2 linked regions of the Homo sapiens genome follow. The protein of the gene in region 1 interacts with the protein of each later gene in a biochemical or structural test. Each region holds a gene or a part of one and is shown on either strand. Other genes may lie near its edges. The genes, in order: MAP4K1 and DBNL.

Region 1 (3,825 bases):
AAGCAATTATCCTGCCTCAGCCTCCTGAGTAGCTGGGATTATAGGCACGTGCTACCACGCCTGGCTAATTTTTGTGTTTTTAGTAGAGACGAGGTTTTACCACGTTGGCCAGGCTGGTCTCAAACTCCTGACCTCAAATGATCCGCCCGCCTCCGCCTCCCAAAGTGCTGGGATTACAGGCGTGAGCCACCATGCCCGGCCTACCTAGCTTCTTTTGTATTTTTAGTAGAGACGGGGTTTCACCATGTTGGCCAGGCTGGTCTTGAACTCCTGACCTCAAATGATTCACCCGCCTCAGCCTCCCAAAGTGCTGGGATTACAGGTGTGAGCCACCACACCTGGCTGCCCTCTATGCATCTTTGATCACCAAATCCTGAGTGTAAGGACAAGCTCCGCCCCTGTTTCAGCCTGGCCACACCCCAACTCCATTAAGCTCCTCCCCGTCCCTGCCTTTGTGCCTTCCTTAGGCTTCTCCCCACCCCTACTTTTGCTCTCCCATTCCCTACAGGATCTCCTTGACCCTCCAGAATGCCCACCCTTGGTGGAGGGATGTGTCCAGGCGGCCGTGCTGTGGATCCGGAGGGGGCAGCCATTGAACAACTTTACGAGAAGGGCACATCCCTGGGCAGGTCGCCGCGGGGCCAGGCAGCAGATCCGGCAAAGAGAGCAGGGAACAGGAAGGGGCAGTGGTTACGACTTTGGAGCGAGAGTGCCAAGGTTCAAATCCTGCCTCTTACCTTGGTGCAATTTCCCATAATCTATCCCTGTAATACACTTTTTCATACATTGAGTTTTCTTTTCAGTTTGTTTTTGTTTTTTTTTGTTGTTGTTATATATTTCTTTTTTTAGTTTTTCCTCCACTATCCTAAATCATCAGCATTTGTTTTTTTTAAGACAGAGTCTCACTCGGTTGCCCAGGCTGGAATGCAATGACATGATCTCAGCTCACTACAACCTCTGCTTCCCAAGTTCAACTGATTCTCATGCCTAAGCCTTCTGAGTAGCTGGGACCAAAGGCGTGTGCCACCACACCCAGCTAATTTTTGTATTTTTAGTAGAGATGGAGTTTTGCCATGTTGCCCAGGCTGGTCTTGAACTCTTGGCCTCATGTGATTCACCTGCCTCAGCCTCCCAAAGTGCTGAGATTACAGGCGTGAGGCACCACTCCCAGCTGTCAGTTTTGTTTTTGGAGATGGAGTCTCACTCTGTTGCCCAGGCTGGAGTGCAGTGATGCAATCTCAGCTCACTGCAACCTCCACCTCCTGGGCTCAAGCAATTCTTCTGCCTCAGCCTCCTGAATAGCTGGGATTACTGGCACACAACACCACGCCTGGCTAATTTTTGTATTTTAGTAGAGACAGGGTTTCGCCATGTTGGCCAGGCTGGTCTCGAACTCCTGACCTCAGGTGATGCGTCTGCCTTGGTCTCCCAAAGTGCTGGGATTACAGGCATGAGCCACTGTGCCTGGCCAGCATATATATATATACACATATACATATATATATAGACACACACACACACACACACATATATATACACACACACATACATATATACACACATATACATATATACACACATATACATATATACATATATACACGTGTACATATATACGCATATACATATATACACATATACATATATATACACACATATACATATATACATATATATACACATGTACATATATACGCATATACATATATATACACATATACATATATATACACACCTATACATATATACATATATACACATGTACATATATACGCATATACATATATACACACATATACATGTATACATATATACACACATATACATGTATACATATATACACATGTACATATATACGCATATACATATATACACATATACATATATACACACATACATATATACATATATACACATGTACATATATACGCATATACATATATACACATATACATATATACACATGTACATATATACTTATATACACATGTACATATATACACACATGTACACATATACGCATATACATATATACACATACATATATACACACATATACACATGCACATATATACGCATATACATATATACATATACATATATACACACATATACATGTATACATATATACACATGTACATATATACGCATATACATATACACATATACATATATACACATGTACATATATACACATGTACATATATACACATGTACATATATACGCATATACATATATACACACATATACATGTATACATATATACACATGTACATATATACGCATATACATATATACACATACATATATACACATATACATATACACATATATATACACATGTACATATATACGCATATACATATATACACATACATATACACACACACATACATGTATACATATATACACATGTACATATATACGCATATACATATATACACATATACATATATACACACATATACATATATACACATGTACATATATATGCATATACATATATATACACGTATACATATATACACACATATACATGTATATGTGTGTGTATATATGTATATGTATATATGTATGATTAATTATGCTATGCATTTCATCTTTGAATCATTTCCAGTGCTGGAGGTATAAATTATACATACTTTTAGCCGGTAGCCAACCAGGCACGGCTGTAATCCCACCAGTTTGGGAGGCCGAGGTGGGAGGATCACTTAAGCCCAGGAGTTCAGGACCAGCTTGGGCAACATAGTGAGACCCTGCCTCTATAAAACATTTTTTTAAAAATTAGCCAAGCTGGGCCGGGCGCGGTGGCTCACGCCTGTAATGCCAGCACTTTGGGAGGCCGAGGCTGGCAGATAACTTGAGGTCAGGAGTTTGAGACCAGCCTGGCCAACATGGCAAAACTCCGTCTCTACTAAAAATACAAAAATTAGCTGGGCGTGGTGGTGGGCGCCTGTAGTCATGGCTACTTAGGAGGCTGAGGCAGGAGGATCACTTAGACTGGGGAGGCAGAGGTTGCAGTGAGCCAAGATAGCACCACTGCACTCCAGCCTGGGCGACAGAGTGAGACTCCATCTCAGAAAAAAAAAAAAAAAATTAGCCAAGCGCTACTAGGGAGGGTGAGGTGCATGGATTGCTTGAGTCTCCGAGGTCAAGGCTGCAGTGAGCCATGATCGCGCCACTGCACTCCAGCAGCCTGGGCGACAGAGCGAGATACTATCTCAAAAAAAAAAAAAAAAAAAAAAAAAGACTTTAGAGAGTTCTAATTCATTTTATGCATTTGTTGGCAAATTTGATGCCACAAAGGTGCATTATCACAACACTGACTACGTGTGTAGGCATTATGCATGTACGTAAAAACACTGAAACTTCCTGAATAAAGAGATGTTCTTTTTGTACATCTCCATTTATGAGAGGTAAAATTTCTTGAGATCTTGGCTCTTTGGGCAACTGCATATGTGGTAGTGACTCATGGAGGTTTTGATGGATCTTGTCAAAAGACTCTAACTTCTGGACTCAAGCAATCCTCCCACCTCAGCTTCCCAAGTAGCTGGGACCATAGGTGTGTGCCACCACGCCCAGCTAATTTTTTAAATTTTTAGTAGCTGGGCGCGGTGGCTCATGACTGTAATCCCAGCACTTTGGGAGGCCGAGGCGGGCAGATCACAAGGTCAGGAGATCGAGACCATCCTGGCTAACACGGTGAAACCCCGTCTCTACTAAAAATACAAAAAATTAGCCGGGCCTGGTGGCGGGCACCTGTAGTCCCAGCTACTCGGGAGGCTGAGGCAGGAGAATGGTGTGAACCTGGGAGGCGGAGCTTG
Region 2 (3,825 bases), on another chromosome or scaffold:
ATTTTGATACCTGTATACAATGTATACGATGAATCAGGGTAATTAGCATGTTCATCACCTCAAACATTTATCTTTTCTTTGTGTTGGGAACATTACAATTTTTCTCTTCTAGCTAATTTGAAATACACAAAATTATTGTTAACTATAATTTCCCTTCTGTACTATTGAATACTAGAATTTATTCCTTCTATTTAACTGTACTTTTGTACCTGTTAAGCAACTTCTCTTCATTTTCTCTCCCCCATGCCCTTCCCAACCCCTGGTAACCAGCATTCTACTCTCTCCCTCCATGATACCCACTTTTTTAGCTCCCACATGAGTGAGAACATGCAATACTTGTCTTCTGTGCCTGGCTTATTTCCCTTAACATCATGACCTCCAGTTCCATCCATGTTGCTGCAAATGACAGGATGCCATTCTGTTTTATGGCTGAATAATATTCCCTCATGTTTATATACTAAATTTTCTTTACCCTTTCATCCATTGATGGACGTTTTGGTTGATTCCGTATCTTGGCTATTGTTAATAGCGCTGAACTTCAGAGTTGGATATATCCCCAGCAGCTGGATTGCTAGATCATATGGTAGTTCTGCTTTTAGTAGGACTAAAATACTGTTTTAAAAACCATACTGTTGTCTAGGCGCGATGGCTCACGCCTGTAATCCCAGCAGTTTGGGAGGCCAAGGTGAACAGATTACCTGAGGTCAGGAGTTCAAGACCAGCCTGGCCAACATGGTGAAACCCCGTCTCTACTAAAAAAATACAACAATTAGCCAGGTGTGGTGGCGGGCACCTGTAATCCCAGCTACTCAGGAAGCTGAGGCAGAGAATCTCTTGAACCTGGGAGGTGGAGGTTGCAGTGAGCCGAGATTGTCCACTGCACTCCAGCCTGGGCAACAGAGTAAGACTCTGTCTCAGAAAAAAACCCAAAAAACCATACTGTTTTTATAATGGCTGTACTACTTTACATTCCTACCAACAGTGTATAAGAATTTCCCTTTCTCCACATCCTTGCTAGCATTTATTTTTTATGTTTTTTATAATAGCCATTCTAACTGTGGTGAGATGATAGCCCGTTATGGTTTTGGTTTGCATTTCCCTGATGATGGTTAGTGATGTTGAGCATTTTTTTGTATGTAGTTAGCCATGCGTATATCATCTTTCGAGAAATATCTGTTAAGGTCTTTTGCCCATTTTAAAATCAGATTATTATTTTTTTGCTACTGAGTTGTTTGAGTTCCTTATATATTCTGGTCACTAATTCCTTGTCAGATGGATAGTTTGAAGATATTTTCTCCCATTCTGTAGGTTGTCTGTTTACTTTGTTGATTGTTTCATTTGCTGTGCAGAAGCCTTTTAGCTTGATGTAGTCCAATTGGTTGATTTTTGCTTTTGTTGCCTGGGCTTTTGAGGTCTTAACCCAAAAAAAATCTTTGCCCAGATCAATGTCCAGGGGCATCTACCCAGTGTTTTCTTTGAGTAGTTTCATAGTTTCAGGTCTTACATTTAAGTCTTTTTAACCCATTTTGAGTTTTTTTTTAATATGGTAAAAGATGAAGATTTAGTTTCATTCTTCTGCATATGGATATCCAATTTTCCTAGCCCTGTTTATGAAGGAGACCGTCCTTTCCCCAGTGTATGTTCCTGTCACCTTTGTTAAAAATGAGTTGGCTGTGTGTGTGAGTGCTCTGTTAGTTTCCATTGTTGTGTCTGTGTTTATGCCTGTACCATGCTGTTTTGCTTACTGTAGTTTTGTAGTTTAATTTGAAATCAGGTAGCATGAAGCCTCCAGCTTTGTACTTTTTGCTTCAGATTGCTTTAGCTATTCAGGGTCTTTTGTGGCTTCCAGATGGCATTTAAAATTAGTTTTCATTGATTAGAAGGAAGGCCTTTGATGCAAATTATGCCTGGGCTGTCTATTGATACACAGCAGGGAACAGCTACAGAAGGAACCACTGGATAGCACAGTGGAGGTCAAGGGTCTCACGTGAACTGGGACAAGAATGAGGGGTTTGCTCCAAGTTGGTTTGTTTGAGCCCTTGAGGGGAACTCGTGCCTCAGTTTTCAGCAGCCAGACAGGTGCCTTCTAGTTTCCTGATTCCAGTCCTGTGTGGTATAGTAGTGGCCCGTGCTGTATGGACTGACAGGAGTTTGGCCCATCTCCTGGGCTTGCAAAGCCCTTCTTTCAAGTGCTGCTCCTGCTGCAGGGGGCCCATGTGACCATCAACGCACGGGCCGAGGAGGATGTGGAGCCTGAGTGCATCATGGAGAAGGTGGCCAAGGCTTCAGGTGCCAACTACAGCTTTCACAAGGAGAGTGGCCGCTTCCAGGACGTGGGACCCCAGGCCCCAGTGGTGAGTGCTGCTTGCCCATCGCCAGCCCTTTTGTTGCTCAGGGCCTGAGGCAGGGGGCCAGGAATATGCACTTCCCAGCACCCGGGCTGGCTGGGCCCATGCCTGCTTAGTTTCTGCAGATGGTAACCCCTGAGCTGTGGTGATTGCCCACTGACCAGATGAGCAGGAATAGCCCTCTGACCTTGCCTAGGGGTTGGACTAGCTGTTCTGGAGCCTTCCTCTGGAGCCCAGCCTGTGTGGTCAGAGTGGAGGCTCTGCAGCATGCATGGCTATGATAGTCTGGCTGCCCTCAAGGTCATGGCACTGGAACATCTTGGGCTGCCCCTGGAGGTAGCCACCGTGGAGGAACTAAAGGAGGCATCAAGGCGGAGCCTGAAACCAGAGCAGGCCCCTTGGAGTCACGGGAGATACCTGTGGGCCTGTGGCCCCAGTGCTGTGTGGAGCTGATGGCTGGGAGCTGCGTCCGCATGCGTGTGGTTGGACGTGATTCCTTGGATGCTCTTGTGGTAGTCAGCTGTCTGAGTGCCCCTGGTCAGAGGCCTGCCTCAGAACTGCCCAATGTCTAGGAGTCTGCAGGTGGGGTATGGGGGCCTTTCTTGCCCTGGCCCCCATCCATGAGGGCGAGAGACCACCAGAGACCCCTCTAGTGTTGTCTGGGATTGAGCATCCCCCTTGGGGCAGTGTCCTGGGCTTCTTTCAGGTCATCTTGGTGTGTGTCTCCTTGAGGGTCACTGGGCAGTGCTCTGCTGCCTCTGCTGGGTCCAGTCCTAGCAGCACTCACCTGTGCTGTCGCAAGTTTAGCGTATTCTCTCCTTTGGTGCCTGTGGGCCTGGCCTTCCACCTGGGTCCAGGTCTCTAATGAGTGCTGTCCCCTACAGGGCTCTGTGTACCAGAAGACCAATGCCGTGTCTGAGATTAAAAGGGTTGGTAAAGACAGCTTCTGGGCCAAAGCAGAGGTGAGTGCTGCCCCGGGGCATGCTGGGCACGTGGGAGTGTTCTGCTTGCTGTGGCTCATCTTTCCTCACAAGTGAGCTCATGCAGCATCCACTCTCCTTGGTGCCCATTACAGATGGTCACACTGAGGCTCGGGTAAGTTAAGCCACAAGGCTAATGATCGACTGGCTCTGGTGCCCGTCTTTGGCCATGTGCCTAAAACTCAGTCCTGGGCAGGGGATTAGGCTGAAGTGGCAGCATAGGGCTGAGCGGGCAGTGGCTCTCCCTGCAGAAGGAGGAGGAGAACCGTCGGCTGGAGGAAAAGCGGCGGGCCGAGGAGGCACAGCGGCAGCTGGAGCAGGAGCGCCGGGAGCGTGAGCTGCGTGAGGCTGCACGCCGGGAGCAGCGCTATCAGGAGCAGGGTGGCGAGGCCAGCCCCCAGAGGTGAGCCAGAGGTGGAGGCTGGCCTGGGGGACCCACCCTGAGGCATTGCTGGGCACCTGCTCCATCCCATGGAGGCGAGGAGGACTAAGGGGTG

The links.
Region 2: the proteins of MAP4K1 (region 1) and DBNL form a complex in vitro, tested with the Homo sapiens proteins (one study listed by BioGRID).

What each region holds. Positions count from the first base shown.
Region 1 is NC_000019.10:38,600,905-38,604,729, forward strand, and holds part of MAP4K1 (mitogen-activated protein kinase kinase kinase kinase 1), read right to left. Parts: intron 791-3,825; exon of another isoform or gene 622-790; coding exon 537-621; exon of another isoform or gene 509-536; intron 1-508. UniProt on the Homo sapiens protein: Serine/threonine-protein kinase, which plays a role in the response to environmental stress. Appears to act upstream of the JUN N-terminal pathway.
Region 2 is NC_000007.14:44,054,550-44,058,374, forward strand, and holds part of DBNL (drebrin-like protein), read left to right. Parts: intron 1-2,207; coding exon 2,208-2,354; intron 2,355-3,232; coding exon 3,233-3,310; intron 3,311-3,579; coding exon 3,580-3,731; intron 3,732-3,825. UniProt on the Homo sapiens protein: Adapter protein that binds F-actin and DNM1, and thereby plays a role in receptor-mediated endocytosis.